Regions from separate parts of the Homo sapiens genome. Here regions 2, 3, 4, 5 and 6 are each linked to region 1. The links come from fine-mapping of genetic effects on gene expression. A gene starts in region 1. Each other region holds a variant in brackets. All regions are shown on one strand. Distances are from middle to middle. Region 1 holds the start of SUSD1 (sushi domain containing 1). Region 2 overlaps SUSD1 (sushi domain containing 1). Region 3 holds the start of LINC02977 (long intergenic non-protein coding RNA 2977). Region 4 overlaps SUSD1 (sushi domain containing 1). Region 5 overlaps SUSD1 (sushi domain containing 1). Region 6 overlaps SUSD1 (sushi domain containing 1).

Region 1 (5,159 bases):
CCCCCAAGCCTTAGTGTCATCTTTCCCCTTCTGTTCCCTTGCACCTTCATATCTGTTATTAAATCCTTCCTTCCAGTCCATTTCCACCTTACTGTCTACATTCAGTCCGTTTCTGCTGTCATTACTGTGGGCCCAGTCCTCAGAACTTCCAGGCCAGCTATTGCAACAACTTCCTCAATGGGCTTGTCCAAGCCTCCAGTCTTTCCCTACATTGTCGACTGTCAGGAAACCTGCCCTTCATAAAACCAGGTTCTCCAAGGTTGAACATGAAGGGAGAATGTCTAGATAAGGAGAGGGGGCTCAACCAGGAAGCCTTGACTTCTGTTTCCCCAAATTCACCCCCAAAACCTTTAGTTACAGATGACCTTACGTAGCTACTAGCTGTGTTCAGCCATCTTAGTCTAACAATTCAATGGGATCATACTGGACAGTTTCCTACCTTAGAGATATCACAGGAAGATCCTGAAATAGACGCCAAGCATCTGCAAGTCCTATGCGCACTGTTCTCGGAGATAGAGCCAAGGAAGGAATCTTAACCAGGGCACCTAATATTACAAAAATGGCCACTCCAGAAGATCAAGCCATTGAAATACCCATCAGGCATGGTAAAAGTCCCAAGCCAAAGAGAATGGGGGTGGGGGCGGCAGGCAGGATTCTCAACCACAAGTCTCCTTGTATGTCATCACATGGAAATTTCCTTCCACTTCAGGATCAGCGTTTGGTTTTAGTAAGGAAGATGGGGGTTCCTTAGACCCTCTTTCCCCCGCCTCAAGTTTACTTATACAAATAGCAAAGGAGGACATCAGCCCCATGCAGATGGCAGTCCAAGGGGGACAATCCTTCTGTCCTCACGTTGGCAGACACAGATCTCTACTCTGAAGGCTTTGTAGGGGCCTGAGCTCCTTCGGGAGTCTGAGCTGGAACTGAAGCTGGAGCTGCAGCCTGAGCCTTGGTTTGATCCTTGACCTTGGTCTTTGGCTGGCACAGCCTGAGCCCCTTGGCAATGCGGGCACGAGCACGTTTCCCAAGCTTGAGGTGGGCAACGTAGGCAAGAGCTGACACCCTTTGGAATCTTGGGCTTAACCTCCTTGGGGTTTATGAGGGCAAGGCCTCAGCACGTGCACTCATGGCCTTGGCACTGTCGCCCTGCATCTTCTTTAGGCCCCTCTTATTGTGCTTCTTGGCAAACCGCATGTTTGTCAGGAACTTGGGGTCCACCCCTTTAAAAGATTCGTATCTTTGTGATCCGGGTTTCATGATGCCGTTTCTGTGCCATTTTCGGGACTGGTTGTGTGTGGTGTGGTGCTTGGATTTGGCCATGTCTGCACTGTAACCTGTGGCTCCCGAAGCGCCTAGAACTGGCTAGACCCACTTTTCTTGTCACTCCCTGAGACGGCTTCCAGTGGCTTCCAGGCACAGCTAAGTCCAAAGGCCTAGGTCTGCCAATCAAGGCACTCTGCCCTCTGCCTCTGGTGCCTCCGTGTGCTTCCTTCCCTTCTCCCCCGGGCCTGAATTCTGAAGGAATTCATTCATTCTACACTCATTTGTGGAGAGGTGACAGTGCCTTCTGCTATGAGCTGGGATACCTTTTTCACATTTTCCCATATCCAAATATGACCAATCATTGATGGCCCAGCTCAAGGGTCACCACCGATTCCCCTTTCCCTGCCCTCACCACCCACACCTTCTCATGGCACCCATGCCATTCTGCCTTGTATTACAGTTATGTGGATGAATGTCACCTCCCCTGCGTGTCTGAATCCTCTGTGTAATTCCTACTCAGCTCAACACTGCATTTTGCAGAGGAGGAAAAACAACTCCCTCGATTGCTTGGAAATAGAACATTTGCTGGTCTAAATCCTCCAGACAATGAGCTCCACGAGGGCCCGCACTGCCCGCCCTCATCGCGCACAGGGAAGCTGTTCAAGGGCCATCTGTTGAATGAATGAGTGAATTAATGGCTTCACTCCTGTACTCTTCCTTACGCGTCTTTCTCACCATATTTAGCATCCGGCTCTCTAACAACGTGAAAAAATTAAAAGTGGTAAGAAAATTGCTTCGGGTCAAAAATGTGTCATGCAAAAGCCACCGCAGAGCCGGAAGCGTGACAGCGCCGCAGAACGCCCTGGCCTCCCCGCCCTTCCCCGGGCGCCGCCCTGCCCGGGTCCGCGCTCGCGCCCAGCCCCCACCCCGCCTCCTGGGCAGTGGAGGTCCCTGGGGGCCCGGCCAGGCCGCCTTAAAACCGGCGTCCCCCGGCGTCGCGGGGTCGGGCGGGGGCAGGGAAGCCCGGCGGGGAGCCCCCCGCTTCTCTGAGCTCCTCCTTGCCGATCTCCAACGGCCGGCGCGGGCCCCACCTGCGCCCCACGCCTCGGCACCGCGCCGGCCCGGCCCAGGGGCGGGGAAGCGTCCGTGCGCCCAGAGTCCTCGAGGCCCAGCCGGGGGCCCCGCCGGCCGCCCGTGCCCGTCCCAGCCCGCACTCACCGTCGGGGCCCGGCGCTCCCGCGGCGCCGCGGGCCAGGCCGAGCAGCAGCAACAGCGGCAGCAGGCGGCGAGACGGGCCCGCATCCCAGGGCCCCCGGCCCATGCCGCCGCCGGTCCCTCCCGGCGCGCCCGCGCCTCCTCCCGGGGCCCTCAGGGTGCAGAGATAAGGCTACAGGCGCCGCGGGGAGGGGACCAGCCGGCGGCTTCCGGCGCCGCCGAGGGAAGCGGGGGGCGCTGCGGGGTCCCCGGGAGGCCGCAGAGCGCGGGTCCTTCCTCTTGTCGGGGCCTGGGCTTAGGACACGCCCGTTCCGCGTCCGTCTCTGGCTCCGCACTTGCTGCCCTCTCGCCGCTCACATTCGCAAAGGGGGACAGACACTCATCGGATAATGACACAGCTGGACGCAGAGCCCCGGAGAGTGCTGGGGAGGAAATGTTGCGGAGGATTCAAGCCACTCGAGGGCTCAGGGAGGCACCCCCGGGGAGAGGGGTGAGGGGAGCAAGGGGCGGAAATCTTCCAGGACGTGAAAGGGAGCTGGATGAGGTGACCACAGCGCAAGGCCCAGATGAGAGGTCGGAAGACGCAGACCCAGGCCACCCAGGGGCGACACACTTGACCAGGTGACACCTGGTCACCGGGAGTGAGAGAGAGTAGGGCTGTGATGGAGGGAGGGGCTGGCATCAGTCCCCGCTGCTCTGAGGACACCCGGCTTGGGACGCGCTGATGCCAGCCCCTACCTCCATCACAGCCGTACTCATCCCAAGGGAAGGAGTAAACCAAGACCCAAGGATGAGAAGGACGTTGGGGAGGAATCTAAGCGGGAGTTTGTTGTAGAAATGGGGAATGGGGACCTAGAGTGAGAGCAGAGGGTTGGAGAGGGGCGTTGAGCTGCAGAGGGAAGTTAGCCCTCCTAACCCAAGTGATGGAGGTCGCCGGGAAGCTGTCACAGTTTCAAGCAGTGAATGACTTCATCACTGACACATCTCTGTCTGTTCTGTGGAATTGGGATTGGGGTTGGGTTGGGATGTGGAAGGCAAAGAGTCCAGCCCGGAGTTGCTGCAGGAATCAGGCAATAGAAGACATGTCCTGGCCCGGTGCGGTGGCTCACGCCTGTAATCCCAACACTTTGGGAGGTCGAGGCGGGTGGATCACTTGAGGTCAGGAGCTCGATACCAGCCTGGCCAACTTGGTGAAACCCCGTCTCTACTGAAAAAAAAAAAATTAGGTGGGCACGGTGGCAGGCACCTGTAATCCCAGCTACTCGGAAAGCTGAGGCGAGAGAATTGCTTGAACCCAGGAGGCGGAGGTTGAAGTGAGCCGAGCTCGCACCACTGCACTCCGGACTGGGCGACAGAGTGAGACTCCATAGACAGATAGATAGATAGATAGATAGATAGATAGATAGATAGATAGATAGATAGATAGACAGACAGACAGACAGACAGACAGATAGAGATAGAGATAGATGTGTCCTGCAGCTGGGCATTGACAAATGAGTGTGAAGAGGGCAGTGTGTAAGAGTGGAATCCACTAGGTTTTATGACTAGTCGGGGAGAAGGAAATAAATAAGATCCGGTTTGAAGGCTTTGAGCTTGTGATGTCTGTGGGAGCGCAGCCGAGAGCAGGCACCCCACTACTTCACCCCATATCCTCACTTGTTTACTCTCTGCCATGAGCCTGCCGTAAATCTCACCACTTTCAAACACACCCATATAAGGGCTAAAGTTGTGGAGTCTTAACAAGTAGTTAAAAATCAACTTCAAGCTGGGTGAAGTGTGGCATGCCTGTAGTCCCAGCTACTAAAGAGGCTGAAGGGCAGGAGAATTGCTTGAGTCCAGGAATTCAAGGCCCATGTGGGCAATACAGTGAGACCCCCTCTCTTAAAAAAACAAACAAACAAAAACAAACAAAGAAAAAGCTCATCTTCCTAGGCTCTTTTTTCCTCTTGGGGAGACAAGGTCTTGTTCTGTTGCCCAAGCTGGAGTGCACAGCTCACCACAGCCTCAACCTCTTGGGCTCAGGTAGTCCACTAGCCTCAACCTCCCAGTAGCTGGGACTACAGGGGCGCAGCATCATGCCTGGCTCATTTAAAAAATTTTTTTTGTAGAGACAAGATCTGGCTATGTTGCCCAGGCTGGTCTCCAACTCCTTGGCTCAAGCAATCCTCCCACCTTGGTCTCCCAAAGTGCTGGGATTACAGGAGTGAGCCACTGCATCTGGCCTCACAAGCTCTTTTCTTAGCAGGCTTTCTTGAAAATTATTTTTGATCAACAAAGACAGGCACCTGTTTGGGGAGCAATAGATGGACGGTGTGTCTCTATTATTTAGACAAATTTTTTAAGTTCAGCTCTCCATAAACTTCAAACTTGGAAATCATGTCATTGTTTCAACAAATATACCATTCACTTAAGATTTTTAACCAGCCTATACCACTTCATCCCCACTGTGGCCCCTTGCAAAATAAATAAACTTAAGTATATATGTATATACATTTTTTATTGATAATGTCAGGAAAATTTGTCCAAAACTTGGAAATGGGCAAAAGAGATTACTGGGTATCCTTTCAGTGGGGTGCTGGGTGCACCGTCGCTGGACTTCCTATTGACTAGGCTATTTTGCAGCACTAGAGGGCTAGAAGTTAACTTGCCGAAAACTGATGATAATGTAAAAGATTTATGTC
Region 2 (5,159 bases), 29 kb before region 1:
ATGAACCAAAAACATAAATATATCCAATCACTAAAAAATATCCTGACCGGGCATGGTGGCTCACACCTGTAATCCCAGCACTTTGGGAAGCCGAAGCATGTGGATCACTTGAGGTCAGGAGTTCGAGACCAGCCTGGCCAACATAGTGAAACCTCATCTCTAGTAAAAATACAAAAATTAGCCAGCCATGGTGGTACATGCCTGTAGTCCCAGCTATTCAGGAGGCTGAGGCAGGAGAATCACTTGAACCTAGGAGGCGGAGCTTGCAGTGAGCCGAGATCACGCCACTGCACTCAGCCTGGGTGACAGAGCAAGACCCCGTCTCAAAGAAAAAAAAAAAGAAAATCCAATCACTAAAAAATCCAATCACTATAAATATATCCAATCACTAAAAGAATCCAGTCACTATAAATATATCCAGTCACTAAAATATATCCAGTCACTATAAATATATCCAATCACTATAAATATATCCAATCACTATAAATATATCCAATCACTATAAATATACCCAATCATTATAACAAAAGAATGGTCCCAACCTCATACTAAAACATCTAAAGTAGGGCTTCAGATAGAAAACAATTTACAGGCCTGGCACGGTGGCTCATGTCTGTAATCCTGGCACTTTGGGAGGACTGCTTGAGTCCAGGAGTTTGAGACCAGCCTGGGAACGAAGTGAGAACCTGTCTTAAAATTAACTTAAAATATAAACAACATTTTTAATGTTTTAAATAAGGAAAACAATCTCCAGGAGAGTGAAAATGCCAGCCCATGAGTATAGGATGGTGTGGCAGGTAATAAGGTGGTAACTTAATTAGGAAAGGTCTTACTAATTTTATGAAAATGAGACAGCCTTAAAACAGCCTTCTGGAAGGACAGGACATGCCCTTTTGCAGATTTTTTTGCACCTGACTGAAGACTATCAGAGGCAGCAGGTATAGGGTAAAAACTGCCCAATAAGCCAGAGGCTGGAGAAGAAATCTCTCTTCCAGTTAGTAGTTTTTTCCCTCAGAACTGACTTTAAAACTTTAAGAATTCCATCAGCTGGGCATGCCTGGGCATGCCTATGGTCCCAGTTGCTCAAGAGGCTGAGGCAGGAGGATTGCTTTAAGTCCGGGAGTTCAAGGCCGGCCTGGGCAACACAGCAAGACCCTCATCTCTAAAAATAATAATAATACTATTTTCATCAGAGCCACATAGTTCAATTCCACTTGGAGAAAACAAAAAAGCACCCTAACTGAAATTCCTAGGACATTGGCATAAAAACATCAGGGATTGAGCAGAAGACAGGAAGCAGCATGATTGAAGAAAGTCTGTTTTTTAAAAAAAAAATTTCAAAAAGCTAGTAATACCATAATTTCCTTTTTTTTTTTTTTTTTTTGAGACAGAGTCTCACTCTGTTGCCCAGGCTGGAGTGCAATGGTGTGATCTTGGCTTATTGCAACCGCTGCCTCCTGACTTCAACTGATTCTCCTGCCTCAGCCTCCTGAGTAGCTGGGACTACAGGTGTGTACCACCACGCCGGCTAATTTTTGTGTGTCTTTTTGTAGAGACAGGGTTTCACCATGTTGGCCAGGCTGGTCTCGAACTCCCGACCTCAAATTGTCCACCCAGTTGGCTCCCAAAGTGCTGGGATTACAGGCATGAGCCAATGCACCTGGCTATAATTTCTTTTTCTTAAATGACATTTTAGCCCCCAAAAGATAAAAGAAAATTGCCTCAGAATCCTTTTGAACTTTTATATTCTTTATTCTTTTTCCTTTTGGGTCTTGGATCAATGAACGCCTCTCCACTCACACCAATTATTGTTTGGGAACCAGTAATTCTATTCAATTGCTGAAGGAGCCCATCCAAGTCAAACCACCCTCACACAAGAAGTGCCACAGAGCTTCTTCTCCTGGGTTGTGGCTCATGGTGGTTTCCATGATTCCCAGGAGTCATTCAGGGGGCAGTTCTAAGGGCCAGAACATCTGCCTGTTCTCCATGACTGGCTGGAATCATCTCACACTAGAACCCCAGCAATTCATTCCTCCTCTAACATTGGTGACATTCAGAGGCCTACCTGCAACCAGCTCCTGAGCTTGATGTTGACTCTGCAAAGCACAATAAACACCTGGATGCAGGATTCCTTGGAATCCAGGAACTAGGATTCACATCCTGTGGTTCCAGGCAAACAGTGACTAACTGCTGATACCCCAACACTTGCTAAGCTCTGCCCCAGCTAAAGCCCGCTGATGTTTCTCTGGCAACTGTGATTCTGAAA[GA/G]AACAGTATTATCAAGAAAAGCAATTCATCAGCTTTTACAAAGTGATAACTGGAGAACTCACAAGGAAAGGTCATGGGAATGGCTGCCAGTGGACATGGTCTTCATGGTGGGGGCATGAAAATGCTCCAAAATGAGACAGTGGTGATGCTAGCACAACTTTGTGAATATACTAAAAACCACTGAGTTGTATACATCAAAAGGGTGAATTTGATGGTATGTAAACTATAGCTCAATTTTTTACAAAAGAGAAGGTCATTCAATCATTGCAAGAATGGAATAAATAAAAGTAGAGCCTAGATCTGGATTTAGTTCCAGGCAGATTAGGTCTAGTTCGGCTGACACCTATTTGGCCCTTACATAAAATATTTTTTTCTCTTTCCTCTTCCCCTCTTCTTCCCTCCTCCTGTTCCCACCAATCTTCTCACTCTTCCTCCTCCTCATTCTTCTTCCTAACTTAAAAAAAAAAAAAATTAAGACAAAGTCTCGCTCTGTCACCCAGGCTGGAGTGCAATGGCACAACCTTGGCTCACTGCAGCCTCAAAGTCCTGGGCTCCAGCGATCCTCCCACCTCAGCCTTCCAAGTAGCTAGGACAACAGGCACAAGCCACCACATCCAGCTAATTTTCTTATTTTTTGTAAAGATGAAGTCTCATTATGTTGCCCAAGCTGGTCTTGAACTCCTGGTCTGAAGTGATCCTCCAGCCTTGGCCTCCCAAAGTCCTGGGGATACAGGCGTGAGTCACCATGCCCAGCCTTCTTCATAACTTTCAAAAGCTGAATTCATCTCTTGGAACTATAAACATACTGATAAATATACAGTTGTAAGTTTTCCCTGGCAAACTCCCACAGCCTAGAAAACACAATTTCAGGGATCATATTCTCCAGAAGATTCCCCTGATTCCTTCCTCACAGCCAAGATAAGTGACCCCTAGATTCCAGTAAATGCTGTTTGCTTACCTATGACTAACACTTTATACTGAAATTAGCTGTCTGCTCGTCACCCTTCCACTAGCACAGTCTTGTCATATAAGAAGTGCATGAAAGGCCAGGCGTGGTGGCTCACGTCTGTAATCCCAGCACTTTGGGAGGCCGAGGCAGGTGAATCAGCCGAGGTCAGGACTTCGAGACAAGCCTGGCCAACATGGTGAAACCCTGTCTCTACTAAAATACAAAAATTAGCTGGGCATGGTGGCGGGTGCCTGTAATCCCAGCTACTCAGGAGGCTGAGACAGGAGAAGCACAGGGGAATCGCTTGAACGCAGGAGGCAGAGGTTGCAGTGAGCCGTGATTGTGCCACTGCACTCCAGCCTGGGTCACAGTGGCTCACGCCTGTAATCCTAGCACTTTGGGAGGCCAAGGCAGGCAGATCACAATGTCAAGAGATCAAGACCATCCTGGCCAACATGGTGAAACCCCGTCTCTCCTAAAAGTACAAAAATTAGCCAGTCGTGGCAGTGCGCACCTGTAGTCCCAGCTACTCAGGAGGCTGAAGCAGGAGAATCGCTTGAACCCGTGAGGCAGAGCCTGCAGTGAGCCGAGATCATGCCACTGCACTCCAGCCTGGGCAACAGAGCGAGACTCCGTCTCAAAAAGAAAAGAAAAGAAAAAGTACATGAGAAATGTGTATTGAATAAACAAAACACTAGATCATCATCTTATATGCTTTTTTTTTAGTGTCTTTTCTTCTTAATATACAAAATTTAATACTGTAACATTGTACTTCTGCAACCATGCAGCCAGTAATTTGCTACCTAGAACAACAGGATATTATAAAATGTTTTCTCTGAAGGAATGTGTTCATTCGTGCCAAGAATAAATCAAATGTATCCTTTGAGAGATTCTGCCTTGGTACAGGTCAAGAGGGAGGATGAATCCGAGCATAAGAACCTACGGTTCCTGGTAGCTAAGAAGATAAAATATGTTCTCCTTTCATTTTATTTTTCCTGAAAACCTTTAAATATCACGAAGCTTTCCAGCAGAGTCATTAAGTCTATGCAAAAGCATCTTAGAACCAGGAGGCTTTTTCTGCCTTTCCTCTTCATTATTGTTCAAAGATTTTCCTAGAAAGCCAGAGAGCAACATTAAATAGCGTATGCTGTTTATAGAGTTCAGATAACAGAGGAGCCGCTAAAAATTAGGAGGGTTTGTCCCCACCCTGTATTCGACCAGCCTATGCTCAGAGACCCAGCCTACAAAGCTCCCATGCTCCCAAAACTCGCACTCCTCACTCAGCGCACACATGTGGGAGGCAAGCCCACATCTCTTAACAGGGACAACTCTGACCTCCTGTGAGCCAACAGCCGGGTGCCAGCCCCCAGATTAGTGTGCTCTGAGCTGAGGAGTGCCACTCACCCCAAGGACCCCCGACCTGTGGTTACAGGAACCTGCAGGAGGCACACCATCTCCAGAGAGTCCCTCCTCACTATTCATTATGAAAACGATCAGGCCAGGTGCAGTGGCTCATGACTAATCCCAGCACTTTGGGAGGCCGAGGCGGGCAGATCACTTGAGGCCAGGAGTTTGAGACCAGCCTGGCCAATGGGGCAAAACCGCATCTCTACCAAAAATACAAAAATTAGCTGAGCATGGTGGTGCGTGCCTGTAATCCCAGCTACTTAGGAAGCTGAGGCAGGAGAATCGCTTGAACCCAGGAGGCGGAGGTTACAGAGAGTCGAGATTGTGCCACTGCACTCCAGCCTGGGCAACAGAGTGAGACCCCCCCCTTAAAAAAAAAAAAGTTCAAACAAAACATTACAATGAAAGAAAAAGAATATTACAATGAACTCCCATAGACCCACATCCCCCCAAGATTCAATCGTTGTTTACATTTTGCCATTTAAAGTAGCTTACAGACTAAAGGAACACTATTATAGATACATCATCATAACACC
Region 3 (5,159 bases), 140 kb before region 1:
ATTTGACTATACAAATTTAAAATTTTTGTGTGGCAAAATATAATACAAACAAGATTGAAAAATTATGAACTCGAAAAATTGTTTACAAAACATATGACAGGAATTAAAATGACTACAACATAAAGAGCTTTTTCAAATCAAAGACAAATAGGCCAAGTACTGAGAAAAAGACAACTCACAAAGACAGAATTAACAACTGGCCAATCAACAAGCAAAATAATCAGAGAGACACAGACAAAACATTGAAACATCCTTCTTCACATACCAGATTAATCAAGATTAACAATACAACAGCACTCAGTGGCGCTGAGGCTTTCTGCTGGTAAGAGTGTAAATTTTTGTATAAGTTTTTGCATAAAACTCTTCCAGCAATCTGCACTGTAAAATGTACATAGTTTCCATTCCAACAATTTTACTTCCAGGAATGTGGCCTAAGTGATAATTGCATACCTTCATACTGACTTTTATAAGGACAATAAACATCTGAAAATATTCTAAATGCACAACAGAGTATTGGTTAAATGAATTATGGTACAAACTTATAATGCAGTCATGAGTGACATGAAAAATGTGGCCTGGAAATGATGACTGAAAGAATCATGTTACAAAACCACACACAAAATTTGACTCCATTTAGGTAATCCTGAGTTGAGTTTGACTCTATTTTGGTAACCCTGAGTTGAGCCCAAAAAGTATGGATCTAGATGTGCATGCCCCACCCCCCACCCACCACACACACACACATACTCCACCACCACCACCCAAAGGATTCACTCTCTCTGAAACAAGAGCACACACTGCCTTTTAAATTGACTTGCTTCATGGACTCACCCTCCCACAAACTGGGGCACAGAAAAGGCCACATCCTTCCTCCCCAGAAGCAGGCACTGCTTTGTTGGTTCAGTCTAACCAACAAAGGATGTGGTAGGTAAAAGGTTCTTACAACGCTATTTGATTGACTTCTATGAGACCATTGAGTTCCTCTTAGAAGAAAAGAATGGGAAAACAAAAGGTTTAGAAAATCAGAAAATGTGAGATTAGCAATGAAAAGGGAACACTGAATGTTCTTTTTTATTTCCTTTAAAATCAATTTAAATATTAATTTTATTCCAAGCTAAAGTGGAATTTCAAGATAATCACTTCTGCTCTGGTCTTACCTTACGTGCCCCACTGCAATTTCAGGTCTCGAGTCAGAGAACAGACTATTTCCTCTTCCCCTTAATTAACCTCCATCCATTTGCTTGATTGTTTGTGGCTCCTTCTATAAGGGATGGGTGGAGGTGCCTTACAGTGAAAAGACAGGTATACATACACACACACTGTATATATATAGATTGGAAATTCAAAGGCATGACATTCCTGGGAACCAAAAAGCCTGTCCAAAGATTAGCTCCATAGCTAGCTCAAGGGCTTTCAAATGCCAGAAAAGAGAACTAGGGCAGCCAGAAGACTTGGCCCCACAATTCAAGTATTAACACTGAGCAATTCTGTGTTATAATTTGCAGCAGTTAGAGGAAATCCCAAAGTCCACGTTTTTGTTATTTCAGTAAATTTTTTTGGATCTCACTCTGTCACCCAGGCGGGAGTGCAGTGGTGTCACCACGGCTCACTGCAACCTCAGACTCCTGGGCTCAAGCGATCCTCCTGCCTCAGCCTCCTGAGTAGCTGGGACTACAAGTGCACGCCACCATGCCCGGCTAATTTTTAAAACTTTTTTTGCAGACATGGGGTCTCGCTATGTTGCCAGGGCTGGTCTTGAAGACCTCCCAAAGTTTAGTAATCTTATATGAACTGCTTTTACTTTTCTGCATTGTACCCAGAAGGTGATGTTTTACTTAATATTTAGTCAGTTATTTTAACCAGAAACTTTTAATACTAAGCAAGGGGGATTTCTTCCTTTCTATCACAATTATACTACATTCCATGTGGACAACTGTATCTCTGGCAGTTAATTCTAGAGGTGGAAATTAGGGAAGGGGGTAGTATGGAAGCATACAGCATTTACAAAACTGGCAAAAAATAAAATAAGTCAAGGGGAGGCTCAGATTCTTTCTTTGGACAAAGGTGGGCTTTGAGGAAAGATCCTCACTCATCAGAGGCCGAGCCCTACACTAACCACAGTAATTTGTATTGATACCCAATTTAGTTCAGGAGCTATAAAAATGTATGTTTGCGGCCAGGCGTGGTGGTTCATGCCTGTAATACCAGCACTTTGGGAGGCCAAGGCGGGTGGATCACGAGGTCATGAGATCGAGACCATCCTGGCTAACACGGTGAAACCCCATCTCTACTAAAAATACAAAAAATTAGCTGGGCACGGTGGCGGATACCTGTAGTCCCAGCTACTCCAGAGGCTGAGGCAGGAGAATGGCGTGAACCCGGGAGGCGGAGCTTGCAGTGAGTCGAGATAGCGCCACTACACTCCCGCCTGGGAGAAAGAGTGAGACTCCGTCTCAAAAAAAAAAAAAAGTATGTTTGCATTATTGCACA[TAAA/T]AATTAAAAATTGAGAGCTATTTGTATTCATCTATTGAGAGAAACGGTCTCTGGGGGTTAGGATGGGGACCTGTCCCCATTATAGACCCGTTCTGGTCTATAATTTACCTAAGACGAGAGCAGAAAGGGTTTTAAATGCTGATCCTAAGTTGTCGTCGGAGGGCAGTACCCCAGAGGACAGGGGAATCATTCCTAACACTGGCAGGGGCCAGAGGCTGACAGCTGGCATTGAACACCTGAATGTCAGGATATTACTCGCCTCTCTCTAATTCTTCCCAATAGAGCGGATACACTCTGGACTCCCTGGGGTGGAGCAGCTACATGGGCAGTTTGTACTTGTTCCTCTTGTCTCTTCATCTGCCCATAAGCCCAAGGCACTCAGAGTCTTCCCTCACTGACACCCAGCAAGCCGGTGAACACACCGGCCCACTGCATTGGGAAGCCCTTTCCTTTTGCTAAGGACTGCATTCGTCTATGCTGCATCTTGAGGCTGTGCAGTATCACCTCCCCTCCTCCATGGTTTTTCTTCTCTAGGCCTAGCAGGCAAGGGAGAAGGAGAGATGCCAGAAGCCTCTGTCTTTCCTTCCCCATTCGTTTCTTACTGAGTCTTGGAGTTAAATTGTTAGTTAGTGCCGGGCGTGTGGCTCACACCTGTAATCTCAGCACTTTGGGAGGCAAAGGTGGGCGAATCAACTGAGATCAGGAGTTTGAAACCACCCTGGCCAACATGGTGAAACTCCATCTCTACTAAACATACAAAAATTACCTGGGCGTGGTGGGGGGGCCCTGTGGTCCCAGCTACATGGGAGGCTGAGGCAGGAGAATCACTTGAACCCGGGAGGCAGAGGTTGCAGTGAGCTGAGATCACGCCACTTCCCTCCAGCCTGGGCAACAGAGTGGGAGTCCATCTCAAAAAAAAAAAAAAAAAAAAGAGGAAAGAATGCCAATTCATGATTTAAAAGTAAAATCAAATAGACTCCAGCTGTCAACTTAGCATATTCACAGTAGGTCCAGCACCGCTTATATCTAATGTTTCATAGTTCATAATGGAGTAACATTCATAGTTACTGAAGTTTAGATAAAAGAAGTGTCACCCTCTATGGCAACCCCTCCCCTGAAACACACATGGACTCTAGTCTAGCCATGGGCTCAATACTGTTTTAAGCATTGCTACTACACTACCACCAAATCTCAGTTTCTAACAGGGGGCAAAGAGCATTTTTAGAAGACGCTTAGTAACAGAAAAATTAACCAAGGGAAGAACAATCTTAATTACGGGATATTTTTACTGGAATGTAGACATTACTTTTGAATATATAGGACAATAGAAATTGCATCAAAGCAATGCTGCCTAACAGACACAGCAGGAAACTTATTGGCATGGCCAGGCTAGTATATTTTCTCATTAGTATATCAACTAATTATAGGAAAAGTACTGTTTCTAAAGTGCTTGAAACATTTGCCTACGTCACTGTTCTCTTTTTCAATGACCTCCTTCATAAAGTCAAACTCTAGCCCAAACTTAAGCCCATCTCACTGCATATTGTAAAGAATGGATTCTGAATGAATTAACAGAAATGCTTTTATATAGGAGGTTGCAGAGATTCTCTTGCAGTCAATGTCTAGAGGAGCTGACCCTCAGGCATCACTCAGAGGAAGTCCCAGCCAAGATTCACAGATCTGTATGTAGCCTTCGGTCAATATCACAGTGTACATCAGGAGTCTCAAGTTCATTGCACAGAACTGGTCCTGTAGCAGGGAAGACTCAGAATTCCTGAGTTTTCTCCTTATGGTGACTCCTCAGGGATAGCCACCATCTTAAATCCAGGAATGGGGCCCAGCTGGGAATGGAGAAAGTTGCAGGCCCACATGCTCCCTGGACGGAAGTCACACGGAGCCTCTGTGCGGGCACCTGAGAAGCTGCCAGAACACCTGCCCAGCAGCAGTGCATCCTCCCCACTCAGTGTCCATCTGCCATCTAGACATGGAGGAGGAAAAGAAAAGAGACAAATATGAACACACTTTGGTTTTCCCACTGTGCATCTCTATGCACAGCTCACACGCACACCCATGGGAGGAGGCGAGGGGGAGCAGCATGGAAGCTCAGCCACCCCTCTGTGTGTGGCCAGGGCAGCCATCACTGGTCCTGCTCTTTTCCTGGGAAGGCATCCCCCATGCTACCTGGAGGTACAGGGTTAGTCATGCCTTTCACCGCTGAGTGTGCTCTGCTGAGCCAAGGACAACCTCCACCCACACTCCCTTTGACTCCCCTCATCCCCAGCTGTTCTTCGTGACTCTGACCCATCCTCCCCTCCATTCCAGTCATTTCTCAAAAATGACACCCTCACATACCACACCGCTGAGAAGGAGAGGAATGTGAGAATGATCACAACAGCCAGGGAACCCAGTCCAACACCCGCCATCTGCAGCAGCATGAGTGACGAATCTGTGGGACAAAACCACAGGCTTAGCCCAGAGTGCACGGCATCACCACCTCCCAGGAGGCACACACCCCACTGTGCTCAATCCATTTTAACCCAGAGCTTGGCCCCATTTAACAAAGAATCCCAAGAATGCCCAACATGCCTGTGTGTCCCCTGAGTTGGCCCTGTGGATATGCAGCCTCAGGAAATTACAGTTACAAGGTATTTCTGAAAAGGAAGTGT
Region 4 (5,159 bases), 120 kb before region 1:
AATCACAGACTCATAATACTCTGTGGCTGGAAAGCATCTCAGAGATCCCAGAGAGAGGGCGACTGAGAACTGGCCAAGTTAAATACTATTTCAAAGACACTTGGCTGATTAGTAGCAGAAGACTCAGGCAAGTAAGCCCAGGCCTCTGCATCTTCCATCAAACCGACTGCTGGTTTCCTGATCATCTTTACAAAGCTCTTCTAGGGGCAATATGCAAAAGGTAAATAGCATAATTTGTCACTGGGCAAAGGCCAGAATGGGGCTGAGCCTTGGCACGAGTGAACTGGCACGATTTCAGGACTAATTTAGATCTCGGTTCTCTGCAAATTACTTTCTGAAATGGCAGTCTCCAAACTTTTTTGAAAAAGTAGACTGCCCAAGATGGGTGCACAACACAGGTAAATGTTATACATAAAAAAGTATTGCTAGAATTGCCTTCAGAATTTCCACAGAACAGTGTTTTTCCTATTATCTTCCAGAGATTTCCAGTGGTTTAATTTCAAAGGCTCAAACTCTCCTTCAATATTGGTTCTCAAGCTGAGGGGAAACCAGAGCACTGCCAAAGCCACTTAGATATTTTCAAAGCAAAATCCTCCCTGTTAATTTAATCATAGCAGAATGACTGCAGCCAGCTCTTTGGCGATTTCTTCTACCCAGTTTGAATGTCTTCCAATCATAGCAAACAGCTGCTGAGTAGAGTGGATTCTGGAAGCTATTATTTTTGTGTCTGGAAGCTTTGTCATCTTAATTATTCTGATAAAAGCATCTCTTTTCCTCGTGAGAACGCCATGCCCAATCCTAGAGCTTCAGGGGATGGACTGGCAAAAAAAAATTTATGAATGTTGGAATGTGTGGCCTTTATTAAAGTCCTACAAGTAAAGGGACTTGGCCCATCTGCACACAGAAACAGGACAGCACCCATCTTTGTCAAGAGGGGCCCTCACTGCCTGGTCATCAGCAATCCAAGATGGCTGACAGTCAGGTAACCCGCCTTGCACCCTGCTGAAAAGCCAAGTCCTCTACCCTTGTTGCAGTTGGTTTGAGCAGAGGTAAAAAGATGAAAATAAGATCAGGAGAGAAGCAGACAAATGGAGGAAGCCTAATTCCCCAGGCCCCTCCCAGATATTTCCTGCACAGTATTCTCTACTGACAGGATAAAAAATTCCCCATTAAAAAGTGCTATCCAGTGGAATCCTTAGGGAAGCAAGTTTATGCTGGCACTTCCTCACCATGCCAGTTGATTGTTTTATGCTGCTCTGAGGCGGGGAGAGGAGGTAAAGGGTTAAACTGATACTGTGGGCTAAGGGCAGAACTTGACAGCCTGTTGCTAGGACCCACAAACCACACGGAAAAGGTCCAGATTCCAAGGTCATAAACTCAACAAGATTTCTGGTATTAGCTACAAACTAATGGAATTCCTGGGAATCAAATCCACTGGCTGGCTGCCTGTTGGTTTTAAAGAAATGTACTGTACTGCCAGGGAAATCCCGAGCCTGGAAAACAAAGACCTGTGATTGCTCAAACCCTAAGGCAATTTCCCCGCCTGGATAACTCTTCCAAGGCAAAGGTTTAAGCTATACAGCGCTCAGCAGAAATGTTCCCACTGCATCTCTAAGGAAAGGCTTTGGAGGAAATGGACAAGGGGTCCCATCAGGCAGACCCAAACTGACCACCCAAGTGACCCATTCTGCTGCCAGGGCAGGGGATGCTTGCTTGTCCTGCCCAGCAAGAGGTGATCACTGCTACAGGGCCCCCTGACCACTGTACATTGCTTTATCTTTTCCTCCTTTCTAAATGAGCGTATTTATTGTGCTATTCAGTTTTCCCTCTCATATTATGTATTATGGTTTGAGATTGGTTAAATTTGCCATTTAGTCATAGATTACTTAAATAGAGCACAAGAAACACATCTGGACTTGACCAAGAGGAAGATGCTATCCCCAGGATTCCTGGTCTTGGAGCTGGATGCAGTAACGGACCCAGCTTTCAGTTGTCTTCCACTAGGGTTCCATGTGGGATCATGCATAGGATAGTTCCATTTTGTTAAGGGAAGAAGTTTTTCTTTTCTTTTTTTTTTTTTTTTTTTTTTTTTGTTGTTGTTGTTGTTGAGATGGAGTTTTGCCTTTGTTGCCCAGGCTGGAGTACAATGGCGCGATCTCGGCTCACCGCAACCTTTGCCTCCCGGGTTCAAGTGATTCTCCTGCCTCAGCCTCCCGAGTAGCTGAGATTACAGGCATGTGCCACCATGCCTGGCTAATTTTGTATTTTTAGTAGAGACAGGGTTTCTCCATGTTGGTCAGGCTGGTCTCGAACTCCCAACCTCAGGTGATTCACCTGCCTCGGCCTCCCAAAGTGCTGGGATTACAGTTTTTCTTAATATTATATGTGTATGTGCACAAGCTACACAGCCGAATGGTAGTGGACTGTTGTAGCTCTTGTATTGGCTTTTCGGCATCTTTTCCTGTGCCCCATTTCTTGATAGGGATTTTGTCTCCCTTTCATTGCAAACCTAGTGGACCTATTGTTCACACTGCTCTGCCTCCAACCAGCCATGAGGAGACATAAAACCCAAGGGAGGCCAATCATCCTAGCCCATCTCCTAGTAACAGTGATTCATCCAATGGGCAGTCACTTAACCTAGCAGGAAAGAATCTTTCCCCGAATTGAAAAGCTATGTTTTCCCAGTGAAATCGGTAAGCTGCGGGAGCTTGCCATCACTCCCTCTCACATGTCCTACAGTAGAAGAAAACGAAGCCAAGTGACTCTTAGAAACAGAGAACTGAAACAAGAGAAA[A/G]ATAGAAAGTCCCACTCACGGTGTTGAGTCCCCAGTCCCAGTTCCTGGAGCCTTCTTGGTGGGGTAGCTCTTTGTATAATTCCATAAGCTCCCATCCACTCACCCTCCTCCCATTTTTTTTCAGCTATGAAGCTCTTTGCTTAAAGTAGTATGAATTGGGTTCTGGTCACCAGTGACAATTATATAAACAGATCTCATCAATATGAACTTGATGCTGCAGAAAAGAAATAAGGACAGCATTCATAGGCAGAAAATAATTTTACCTTTCACCTGAGCCCAAACTGCACAGGAGTGTCTTCTCACCTATAAAGGAAAACATAGCAATGCATTTAGCTAGGTGGCACACAGTGTCAGTTTAAATATAGTTTGGAGGCTGAAGCCCTCTGAGTTTCAGCTTTTTCAATCTCTTAATCTGAACTAGACCTTTAAAGTCCAATCTAGCTCTAATATCTTGTGATATCACTAAGTGTTCAAGGGACCGGCGTGGGTTGCATGGACAGAAGTGACCCTACAGATCACTTCTATAGGTTTCCAACAGGTCTTGGAAAGCATATATGATAGGCCAACAACAGGAGTGACAAAAAGGACCATTCCCCTGACCAGCTCTGAGCAACTGGCATGGACCGCCTAGAGAATTATGCTGAAAAGGATTCTGAGGTCACACGTTCAGAAGGTTCAGCAAGAAGTAGTGATGCATGTTAGAGGCAAAGCTATGAGAAGTCCCAGTATATAATACTTCATCTATCTAGATGTCACTTAGCAACGTCAGTTACCCAAAATGTGTCCATGAACCGGGAAGAAAGCAACAGGAACATATATGAAAGCTCATCCATAGTAGAAGAAATCTATAGATTCAGTGGAATGAATATCTCTTCCCCCCTGTCATTATGATATGCTTATTTACCTGTTACAAATGCTGGGGACTTGCTCTATATAAGACTTGAAAATATTCCCCAGAGGAAGCTGCACGGTGAGGGTTAGAGGAGGATCCTTCCAATGTCATTAGGAGAGTCTCTTTCAAATGACAGCCTTGGGCATTCTGGTTTGGATTTTATTAATTTTTTTTTTAATTTAAGCTTAAAAATTCTGAGAAAAGCTGCTGGGCACAGTGGCTCACACCTGTAATCCCAGCACTTTGGGAGGCTGAGATGAGCAGATCACCTGAGGTCAGGGGTTCGAGACCAGCCTGGCCAACATGGTGAAACCCCATCCCTACTGAAAATATAAAAATTAGCTAGGTGTGGTGGTGGGCGCCTGTACTCCCAGCTACTTGGAAGGCTGAGGCAGGAGAATCACTTGAACCCAGGAGGCGGAGGTGCAGTGAGCCAAGACCACACCATTGCACTCCAGCCTGGGCAACAGAATGAGACTTCGTCTCAAAAAAAAAAAAAAAAAAAAAAAAATCTGAGAAAAGCTTAAAATAGCCATAAGCGTTTGAATGTGACTAACATTTGCTTTGATGCTAAGTGCAGATATTAGAAATGGAAGGTAATGTGCAAGAATAACCAGTAAAGAACATATTTCAAGACACTGGAGAATGGAAGGGACTTCAAATAGCAAGGCCATTTGGGGGAATGGAGTATATCAAAGGAGAGAAACTGGCAGGGGCCAGGTGAAGAAGGGAGCTTATTAAACTGAAATGCCTGGATCATACTTGCATTTTATAAAACTCATGCTGGCAGTGGTATGAAGCAAGGAGACGGGTAGAATAAGAGACAGAAAGATGTGGTAGAAAAGTGATGTTCAGGCAAGAGATGACAAAGTCTGAGCAGTGCAGACAAAGGAGAGGAAAGAATGATTTTAAACAGAATTAAGTTGGTAGAATTGACATGATTTGCTGATGATCTGGATAAGAAGGTAAGAAAGAAGGAAGAGACAAGAACTATTTACAGGTTTCTGTCTTAGCAATGGGAGGCATGGCAATGCTATTTACTGGGACAGATACACAAAGGGAAAAACAAAATGGGGCATTGGAAGACTCACACTCCCTGATTTCAAAATTTACTACAAAACTACAGTAAACAAAACAGTGTGGTAGTGACATAAAGACAGACATATAGGCCAATGGAACAGCATAGAGAACCTAGAAATAAACCCTTGCATATATGTCAAATAATAGTTAACAAGAGTGCCAAGACCATTCAATAGGGAAAAGACAGTTTTTTCAGGCTGGGCACACTGGCTCACACCTGTAATCCCAGTACTTTGGGAGGCTGAGATAGGAGAAGCGCTTAAGCCCAGGAGTTTGAGACCAGCCTGGGCAACACAGGGAGACCCCATCTCTACAAATAATTTTTAAATATTAGCCAGGCATGGTGGTGCACAGCTGTAGTCCCAGCTACTTGAGAGGCTGAGGCAGGAGGAT
Region 5 (5,159 bases), 95 kb before region 1:
TGAGTGGAAAGTGAATTTACTGGGGCCCTATAGCCGGAGGACTACAATCATTGTCCCCTGATAGTAATCTACTTTTTTTTTTTTTTTTTTTTTTTTTTTTTTGAGATGGAGTTTTGCTCTTGTTGCCTAGGCTGGAGTGCGATCTCAGATCAACACAACCTCCACCTCCTGGGTTCAAGCAATTCTCCTGCCTCAGCCTCCCGAGTAGCTGGGATTACAGGCACCTGACACCACACCCAGCTAATTTTTGTATTCTTAGTAGAGGTGGGGTTTCACCACGTCAGCCAGGCTGATCTCGAAATGATCCTCACATGATCAACCCTCCTCAGCTTCCCAAAGTGCTGGGATTACAGGTTTGAGCCACTGTGCCTAGCTAGTAATCTACTCTTAAAGTACTTGCAACAGGATGCCAACTAAATATTCCTGAGAAAGAAAGAGCCACAAGCATTTTTTGTTTAAGTATAAAGTATTTTAAATGCTTTAAATATCCAGAAGCTATACAACCAACACCATGGATGGACACACTACCCACATTTCATCAATGCTGACATTTTGTTTCAGGTATCTTCCCCCTCCCCCTCCCCACAGACCTCCCCTGTGGTTATTAGGTATCTTTTTAAAAATAAAACATAACAGGCTGGGCGCAGTGGCTTACACCTGTAATCCCAGCACTTTGGGAGGCCGAGGCAGGTGGATTGCTTGAGCCCAGGAGTTCGAGACCAGCCTAGGCAACATAGTGAAACCCCGTCTCTACAAAAAATACAGAAATTAGCCAGGCATGGTGGCCTATACAACTATAATCCCAGCTACTCAAGAGGCTGAGGCAGGAGGATCATTTAAGCCCAGGTCAAGGCTGCAGTGAGCCATGATCGTGCCTCTGCACTCCAGCCTGGGCGACAGAGCAAGACCCTGCCTCAAAAAAAGAAAAAAGAATGAAACATAACAGTCACAGAGGCGCCTTAAGGCACCTCTCCAATTCCATGTCCTTCCTCCTCTCCCTGTTAAAGTTCATTATATAATGATAAAAAGCAACAGTGTTCCTCTTTATCAGGACCTATGAACAATTCTGTGGTAACTTTGTTAATCCAAATGCTGTTATTCAAGATTTACCTGTTATCTGGGTTGTCAGGGAGATGACCACAGGAAGTTCCGAAGACAGAGCCCGGAGACTGACATTGTAGTTGGTACCCGGACGTAGGTCCAAGCACACCTCGGGATCTCGGCTGCTGCTACTGATATTAAAGGTCATTTCCTGGGCAAATTCCTTCTGATACCATCTCTGGCCCCAAATGTGGAACTGAAACATAAAAAAGCTCACTGGGTGAATGGTTGGCCTAAAAGGCTTTAGATGCCTTGAAACCTCCCCTTTTCCTTTTTCTTTCTCTTTTTTTTTTTTTTTTTTTGAGATGGGGGCCTCACTCTGTCACCCATGCTGGAGTGCAGTGGCATGACCTCGGCTCACTGCAGCCTCAACCTCCCAGGCTCAAGTGATCCTCCCTCCTCAGCCTCCCAAGTAACTGGGACCACAGATGCATGCCACCACATCCAGCTAATTTTTGTATTTTTTGTAGAGACAGGGTTTCGCCATGTTGCCCAGGCTGGTCTCAAACTCCTGAGCTCTAGTGATCTGCCACCTCGAATCCCAAAGTGCTGAGATCACAGGCGTGAGCCACCGCGCCCAGCCCCTTCCCGTTTTCATGAGCTTTCTTCCTCTCTCTCTCTCTCTGGACTCTAATGTTTCTTCAAAAGGTGAAATGCAGCAGTAAGCAAATATTAGAGTTGCAATACTATAAATATTGTACTTAAAATATTATTTGTATAATAAATATATTTTTAAATAAAAACACACAAAAGGCTAAGGTCCCAATACTGGCAGCTTTCTCCTTATTCTCACACATACAGTGCACATACACAACAAGAAAGTCTATTGGCAAAACTGCAGGAGCAAGGACAAGAACATTTTCCTAGAAAGAATATTAGGAATCCAAACTAAGCAGGACCTGAATTAGAATACTCGTAGCTGGTCTGCTAGAACCTGAGAACAGTTTTTCTCCTCTTCCTGCCAGCTTCTGGTGACCCTACCCTTTCCTTAACCACCCTGACACTTCGGCCAAGAGACACCCTTTTGTTCTTACTTAATTTCTTCCAGTAGAAGTTCATCCCAGTCTTCCCCCTCCTTTTTTTTTTTTTTTCGAGACAAAGTTTTGCTCTGTCACCCAGGCTGGGGTTCAGTGGCGCGATCTTGGTTAACAGAAACCTCCACCTCTTGGGTTCAAGCTATTCTCCTGCCTCAGCCTCCTGAATAGCTGGGATTACAGCTATGC[G/A]CCACTACGCTCGGCTAATTTTTATATTTTTAGCAGAGACAGAGTTTCACCATGTTGACCAGGCTGGTCTTAACTCCTGGCCTCAAGTGATCCGCCCGCCTCAGCCTCTCAAAGTACTGGGATTACAAATGTGAGCCACTGTGCCCAGCCACTGTCTTTAAATACACAGAAGTGGCCATCTTCTTGCTTCTTGATGCAATTGTCACAGTAAATCGTCTACTGATAATGATAGTTATAGATGTAGATTTTTAGGTTTGTGGGTATTTTTAAGCCTCCCACATAAGACAACCATCTATAAATACAGTAACTTTCAGTCACTTACTAAATACATCTCCTCCATATCAGCTGTCTTGATGCTTCTCCATCTCAAGCAGGTTTCATTAAATCCTGAAATGTTACTGATGGTCTGTTTTACTGTAGTGGAAAAGAAATGAGAAATCAATTTACACTCTATAGAAAAAATGCTACCTTTTAATTGAGCCATTTTTCCAAGGATAAGTGTTAGCATGAGTTCAACAGTATTTTAATTTAGAAATTAGTGGTAGCAGTCTCAAAGTAATACCACTTTTATATCTAGGTAAACTCAGTCTTGATGAAAGATTTCAGATCCAAAGATACCTAATCGGAGGACCCCTCTTAAGAATTATTTGAGTGGGCCGGGCACAGTGGCTCACGCCTGTAACCCCAGCACTTTGGGAGGCCAAGGCAGGCAGATCACTTGAGGCCACGAGTTCGAGACCAGCCTGGCCAACATAGCGAAACCCCATCTCTACTAAAAATACAAAAACTAGCTGGGCGTGGTGGTGTGTGCCTGTAGTCCCAGCTACTTGGGAGGCTGAAGCAGGAGAATCGCTTGAACCTGGGAGGCGGGGGTTGCAGTCAGCAGAGATTGTGCCACTGCACTCCAGCCTGGGTGACAGAGTGAGACTCTGTCTCAAGAAAAAAAAAAAAAAGAAAAGAAAAAGGAAAAAAATTATTTGAGTCTATTTACTGCAAGCTTCCTTGGCTTACTAAGCTAAAATTACAACTATTTGTCCTGGACCTTGTATACCCTCATTTATACAAATAAGTGTCGGTTCGAAATTCTGAGCTAAGAGCAACATTTCAGCAGAGAATTGCTCCTTGAGGAACTGAAAAAAGTGCTTTGAAGCAATCAGGTTTTTCATGAGGAAAAGAATAGGAGGTGGCGGGATTCTCTTGGTTTGGGCTTCCTTATCTCTTGTGAGCAAAGAAATATTTCTTGTCCTCTGCTCAGTTTCATAGTAATCAATCTAAAAGACAGTTCAGATCTGATACAGTTTAATGTGGAGGTACACCCATCCAAGTAGTCAAGAAAGACTATTTATTCAAAACCCTGACATCAGAGGTTACTTCCTTCAATAAGGATCTCTGTCCCTAAAGTGGAAATAATAGAGCAGACTTGCTAAGAAGTTTCACAGGAACACTGTGATGATTAACGAGTGATAAAGACAACTCCCAAATTACGTGAAAAAAGGAAGGTCTCATGAAAGGTAAGGCTGTATTTTGTAACTCCCTGGCCTGACAGGTTCCTACAAATGAAGCCAAGTTGGTAGACACGACTCCTCTCTATGGATTGGGCAGCTTGGCACAAAGAAAACCTGTACAAGTCACAAGCTGTACCTCAAATGTTGCAACACGGAGCAGGTAGGGAACAGGAGGAAAAGATGAACAGGTGGTAAGGAACAGGAGGAGTACAGATGATTCCAGGTTAATGCAGACCCACAGCTGGGTAGAGACAGGTTTGGAGATTAGTAGTAGTGGTCCAAAGTTACACTTCTGAAACTTTCAAAATACAAATAACTCCAATAGTATTTAAACAGTTCTAGACTATACAAAAAGGTGGAAGGGTCCCCAAATCATTTAATATGACTAAATAATCCACAATGCCCGACCTGTACAAGGATGGCACAGCCAATCACTAAACATCCTATGCCAAATTTGCTTGTTGATATAAATACAAAAATCCAAAATAAAATATTAGCACAAAGAAGTCAGTAGTACATTCAAAGAACAATACACTACGACCAAAGATTTATTCCCAGAATACAGAGAGTATCATTATTGGAAAAGCTATTAATAGGTTAAAAGAGAGAAACCATGTGGTTACTTTTATAAATGGAACTGTTAATACATTTAATATACTTTGTTAACTTGAAATCTTAGTGAGCTAGGACTTCATTTGACAGAAACGCCTTAGTTTAATAGGGTTTATAAGAAACCACCACACTCAGTGGTAAAGCAATTAAGCAATTTCTAGTAAAGTTAAGAACAATACAAGGATGTCTGGTCTTGTAGCTATTACTGAGCCTTATTCAAGAGATTCTAGACAATGCAGAAAAAGGCAAGAAAAAAAAATGAGCTATAAATGCCAGAAAGAGCAACAAATGATGCAACTGCCAGTAAATCTAAGAGACTCAACTAATCAAACATGAAACTGTTTGAAAATAACAGAAAGGCAACATACAAAAACTGATCATTTTCTATCTATCTTCAAGAACAAGTATGGTAGGTTAAATAATGACCCCCACCCGCCACCAGCATGTCTACATCCTAGTCCCTGGAACCTGTATGTTACCTTACATGGCAGAAACACTTTGTAGAGGTGACTAAGACAGTGAGATTATCCTGAATTGTCCAGATGAGCTCAATGTGATTACAAACATCCTTATAAGAGAGCAACAAGAACATAAGAGTTAGAAGATTTAAGAACGGAAGCAGAGGTTAAACTGATGAGCTTTAAATATGGCGGATGGAGCCACAAGCCAAGGAGTATAGGCAGGATCTAGAAACTGGAAAGGGCGTGGAAATAGATTC
Region 6 (5,159 bases), 59 kb before region 1:
TTTCTATATACTAGCAATGAGCAGTCCAAAGATGAAATTAAGAAAACAATTTCATTTACAATACTATCAAAAACAAACAGGCCTGGTGCAATAGCTCACGCCTGTAATCACAGCACTTTGGGAGGCCAAGGCAGGTTGGTCACCTGAAGTCAGGAGTTCAAGACCAGCCTGGCTAACATGGCAAAACCCCGTCTCTACTAAAAATACAAAAATTAGCTGGGCATGGTGGTGCATGCCTGTAGTCCCAGCTACTTGGGAGGCTGAGGCAGGAGAATCACTTGAACCTGGGAGGCAGAGGTGGCAGTGAGCCAAGATCCTGCCACTGCACTCCAGCCTGGGTGACAGAGTGAGACTCCATCTCAAAAACAAAAACAAAAACAAACAAACAAAATTCCTGCAGACAGAAGCTATCATATAATTATTCCCAGAGAAAGTTGTCCTCATGTCACCAAAAAGGGATATTCCACAGCCCCAGCTCAAGCTTTCCCATTGAAGCAGACACCTCTTAAGAACTCCTCAGCCTCTCTCAGCTTCCCCTGCTCCTTGTCCCATCCCTGGATGGGTTTTGACAACATGACCAGGTCTTGCCTCCTATTCTGGGACTTCCCTGCTGCAGCACCCACACCCCAGCACATGCCATCTGGAAGTGCAGGGGAGTTAAAATCCTGTGGGGACAGGAGCTGGTAGAGAAATCCTTCCTCCTTTCTTTCCTCTGAAGGGCTGTCCAACAAAGACTTAGTTTCTTCAGCGTCTAAGGACACTGTCACACAGATGTGGTAATGCCCACCCTCTGTGGAGACCAGTACAATCAGGCATCATACGCTGACTCTCCTTCTTTCCCTGTTTTACTGCCCTTGTTTCCCACTCCTGGTGCCTGGGATTTGATTCTCTACTGCATAATAAATATAAACCCAGTGAAAGGCTCCCATCTAAGAAGAGTGAGAAAGCTATTTCTCCATGTCAGAAAATGACTCTCCACAACTCAGCTCCCGTTTCTCCCTTCTAGTAAATCTCTTCGCAGTCTCCAAGTGCAAAAGGAAGCCTGCACCTTAGGTACCTGTAGGGCCAATCCTATTCTCCTGTACTCAGAACCAATGCTAGCTTTGGATTGACCCAGATCTACTGACCTCTCTGCCCAAAGAAGAGTTTATATCTTTACTAAATCATCCCTTCAGCAGCAATGCCTAGATTCTGTGTCCCACATGACCTGGTCTTGGGTAAGCCCAAGTTATCTATTAGCAAGTGAAAATCAATGGAGGCAGAGAGGGAAAAATAGGCAAACTCCTGCCGAGATACCAGAAAGGCCACCTATGGCTGTCTGCAGCATTCCTGGATCTCTATATCAGTATTTCTCCCTAGAACACACACAATTTGAAATCAAAGAAATACTCCAATTGTGGGCCAAGTGGGTGCGGTGGCTCACGCCTGTAATCCTAGCACTTTGCGGGGCTGAGATGGGCATATCACTTGAGGTCAGGAGTTTGAGACCAGCCTGGGCAACATGGTGAAACCGCATCTCTACTAAAAATACAAAAAAATTAGCCAAGCGTGGTGGTACATACCTATAATTCCAGCTACTTGGGAGACTGAGGCACGAGAACTGCTTGAACCTGGGAGGCAGAGGTTGCAGTGAGCCAAGATTGTGCCACTGCACTGCAGCCTGGGCGGCAGAATGAGACTCCATTGCAAAAAAAAAAAAAAAGAAAAAAAAAAGAAAAGAAATACTCCAATTATGAGCATGGGTACCCTAAGAGACACAATGACCTTCAGTTCGCCCCCTTGGGTAGCATAAAGATGATGTTGGTACCAGTCTTTTATCAGCCTGAACAAGCCCCAGATATTTCTGGCCTCTACCCTCTTTGCTGCCCTTCAAAGCCCCAGAGCTCTTGGCATCTCTGCTCACTTACACATCCCTTTGATGCTAACTCACCACCTGGTCCAGAAAGAAAAGGCACCAGCCCAGCCCTCATCTTCTCTCTGAGTTGCCAGCAAAGCGAATTTCCTTTTTACTCTCAGTTCCTTTGTCATCGAAGCAGAGATTAGAAAGGAGTTTTCTTTCTTGTCCTTCCTTCTTGCTCATTCACTATGACAACTGTAAATGGCATCTCAAAGATGCCATCTGCCTCCAGCCTGTGCCATGCTCTCTGCACAGATGGGACCCAGATCCAATTATAGGGGTGTCAGATATTTCATCCCAGGGAGCAGTTTAACAAAGTTTGGTTGCTTTTCCCTCCAGGTGCCTACAAATTAGTTGGAAAGACTCCTTTATAAAAGAATCAGATATTCAACATCTACATTAATGCTGCCCTTTTAATGGAGACTATATGCCCTCATTCCAATAGTGCTGATAACTGAAAACATTTCTGGAAGTCCTCTTTGGAGCTGTCCC[A/G]GGGCTCTTTCATTCCCTGCTCACTACTAACTGAATGGCTATCAAATGCCAAGCATCCTGCCATGCCAGGCACTGGGCTGTGACGATGTTATCTGCTGACTATGTAGGGAAAAAGTACTCTTGAAAGTCATAGATCTGTGAATGTTAGTTGAAGGTATGGGTGCAGGTGAGATATGCAGGTAGGACAGAGACAGTGAATGGCCCAATGGCAGAACACTGGGAAACACTGAAACCCAGGGGGGAACCAGAGGAAAAAGGCAATGCAGAAGAGAGGCAGGAGGCTGGTAGAGTGACTGATGTCTAGGAAGGAAAGGAAGGACTTGAAAGAGTGTCTCTCAGCCTTCCAAGGCCAGGCACAGTGGCTGACACCTGTAATCTCAGCACTTTGAGAGGCCGAGGCAGACGGATTACTTGAGGCCAGGAGTTCAAGACCAGCCTGGCCAACATGGCAAAAACATGTCTCTACTAAAAATAGAGAAATTAGCCAGGTGTGGTGGTGCACACCTGTAATCCCAGCTACTCAAGAGGCCGAGGCACGAGAATCACTTGAACTTGGGAGGCGGAGGTTGCAGTGAGCTGAGATCGTGCCACTGCACTCCAGCCTGGGTGATACAACAAGACTCTGTCCCTAAAAAATAAAAATAAATTCTTTTAAGAAAATTATCAGCCTTCTTTCCCACCAGTCTCCCACAGCCTCCTCATCCCCTAGCCAAGAAGGGCCTGGAGCAGGTCAAGGCAGAGGGTGCAAACTCCATCTCCCTCTCTCCTCTCACATGGCTTTTCTCCCCTCATGGAGTGCCCACGGCATCAGGATTAGATCTGTGGTTTGACTTTGGGTAGAGGTGGGAAGAGCAGGCCCTCAGCCTGCCCAGTTGTAGAACACAGAGGCCTCTCTGGCTTAAAAGAAGGAGGCCCCCACAGTGTCCAGCTGAAGTCTCACTGGATTTGGGGAGAGAAAGTCTCAGTGAGTGATAAAGTAAGAGCCTTTGTTTTGCTTTACTCTATGTGTGTGTGTGTACACACAGGTACATATATATGTTATGTATATATAGATATAGATGTACATAATGTTATGTATTTTGGTATTTTGTTAGCATCTAGTATTTCTGTATGTGGTACTTAACACACTTGTAACTAAATACGTAAGTCATTATATAATGACCACCTCTCCTGAATGTAACTTTACGATGGCAAAGACCATGTTTCTCTCTCTATCCTCAGGCCCTAGCACAGTGCCTTAAATATAGATACTAAAAACTATGTATTATTTGGTTGAACTGGTTGAATGGATGGATAAAGGATCAACAATGCTAAATGTTGTGGAAAGGTTGAGAAGAATGACAGCTGAAACTGGAACATGAAATTGGCAGTTAGGTAGTCATCAGTCACCTTGGTGAGATGCTACAGTGAAGTGGGGGTGTTCGATGCCTGGTTTCCCCCCAGTAGGCTGAGAAGAGCATAGGAGGGGAGGGAATAAGACAGTGAGCCCAGACTACTCTTTCAGAAGTCCCACTGTGCAAGGACAGGGGCTGGTCTAGTGTACTCCCTTGGTTTCCAATTTTATATCCTTTTTCTTTATTTTTGGAAACAGCAAAAGGTCATAGAGAATAAATCCAGGTGACCCAAACAGATGGTCAAGCAAGCTCAGCATCATTTCTAGTCAAAACAGCATCTGATTTCAAAAGGAATGTAACTGATCTTCTAATACGGCTCATAAACTACCTCCAAAGGACATTATCAAATAGGATTCCAAGGCAAACACATGATGATAATGGCAGCACCACAGAAATCAGGGTATGGCTTCCCACAGTGCCTACTTGAATAAATGTATGTTTGGCTATAAAAGTTTTCATGTGTTTCCTTTCTTTCTTTGAAGTCTTAGATTCACATAAAATAAGTAGGAGTAGCATGGCTTAGAGTACGTTAGTGTAAAATATATTGCACACTTTGGGATGATTTTTGGTGGCACGCGAATACTTTTTTTCTTTTTTGGAGACGGAGTCTTGCGCTGTAGCCCAGGATGGAGTGCAGTGGCATGTTCTCAGCTGACTGCAACCTCCGCCTCCTGAGTTCAAGTGATCCTCCAGCCTCAGCCTCCCGAGTAGCTGGGACTACAGACGCGTGCCACCACACCCAGCTAATTTTTGTATCTTTAGTAGAGACGGGGTTTCACCATGTTGGCCAGGCTGGTCTCAAATTCCTGACCTCAGGTGATCCACCCTTCTCGGCCTCCCAAAGTGCTGGGATTACAGGCGTGAGCCACCGCGCCCAGCCAGGAATACATTTTTATCTGTTCGTTATGTATCAGTTTTTGTGTATATCAGAAAAATACACCTACTTCATCAAACTCATGAGATCACATATATTGTCCTTAATAAATTTGAATTATAAATTTAAGGTTAGGTTGTTTAAGGAAACACTCTAAGTAAATAATACTCTTATTATGGCAAACATTGTGTCAGGGTGGTATACAAATAATTCAAGCTTGGAAGACACTGATGTAGGAGAAAGAATGTGGTCTTTCTGGGCTTACAGGCCTCAGTTCAAATCCTGGCTCTACCATTTGCTAATTATTGAGTGACCATGTAAAAGTCACTTAACCTTTATGAGTCTCAGATTACTTATCTATGAAATGAAAATAACAAAGCTTACTTCAAAAGGGTTTTAAGAGGATGAAATGAAATCGAGCATTAAGGTCCCTAGCTGAGCCCTGGGTGTGTACGTTCATGCTCAGCCAGCAGTAGCTATAATGCTTGATGGTCCAAACCTC

The links. PIP is the estimated chance that this variant, and not a neighbour inherited with it, causes the effect.
Region 2: its variant is fine-mapped to the expression of SUSD1 in whole blood (TOPMed, PIP above 0.99).
Region 3: its variant is fine-mapped to the expression of SUSD1 in whole blood (TOPMed, PIP above 0.99).
Region 4: its variant is fine-mapped to the expression of SUSD1 in whole blood (TOPMed, PIP above 0.99).
Region 5: its variant is fine-mapped to the expression of SUSD1 in whole blood (TOPMed, PIP 0.98).
Region 6: its variant is fine-mapped to the expression of SUSD1 in cerebellar hemisphere (GTEx, PIP above 0.99).

Annotation. Positions count from the first base shown.
Region 1 is chr9:112,172,652-112,177,810 of GRCh38, forward strand. It overlaps SUSD1 (sushi domain containing 1), which reads right to left and starts at 2,646. Exons shown (of 17, transcript NM_022486.5): 1 at 2,482-2,646. The coding sequence starts at 2,584. It also overlaps the pseudogene RPL29P20. RefSeq lists a silencer at 2,105-2,764.
Region 2 is chr9:112,143,914-112,149,072 of GRCh38, forward strand. All of the region lies in intron 3 of SUSD1 (sushi domain containing 1), which reads right to left. Among named protein-coding and RNA genes, the nearest start is that of SUSD1, 29 kb to the right of the region's middle. RefSeq lists an enhancer at 415-1,614. The variant GA/G (reference allele first, on the strand shown) is at 2,267.
Region 3 is chr9:112,037,022-112,042,180 of GRCh38, forward strand. It overlaps SUSD1 (sushi domain containing 1), which reads right to left. Exons shown (of 17, transcript NM_022486.5): 16 at 4,846-4,939; 17 at 3,762-4,471. The coding sequence ends at 4,471. It overlaps LINC02977 (long intergenic non-protein coding RNA 2977), which reads right to left and starts at 3,403. Exons shown (of 3, transcript NR_186812.1): 1 at 1,158-3,403. RefSeq lists enhancers at 4,011-4,650, 4,046-5,159, 4,651-5,159. The variant TAAA/T (reference allele first, on the strand shown) is at 2,491.
Region 4 is chr9:112,049,342-112,054,500 of GRCh38, forward strand. SUSD1 (sushi domain containing 1) reads right to left here. Exons shown (of 17, transcript NM_022486.5): 15 at 3,058-3,097. Among named protein-coding and RNA genes, the nearest start is that of LINC02977, 11 kb to the left of the region's middle. The variant A/G (reference allele first, on the strand shown) is at 2,795.
Region 5 is chr9:112,077,428-112,082,586 of GRCh38, forward strand. SUSD1 (sushi domain containing 1) reads right to left here. Exons shown (of 17, transcript NM_022486.5): 11 at 2,647-2,738; 12 at 1,111-1,297. Among named protein-coding and RNA genes, the nearest start is that of LINC02977, 40 kb to the left of the region's middle. The variant G/A (reference allele first, on the strand shown) is at 2,325.
Region 6 is chr9:112,114,122-112,119,280 of GRCh38, forward strand. All of the region lies in intron 6 of SUSD1 (sushi domain containing 1), which reads right to left. Among named protein-coding and RNA genes, the nearest start is that of SUSD1, 59 kb to the right of the region's middle. The variant A/G (reference allele first, on the strand shown) is at 2,390.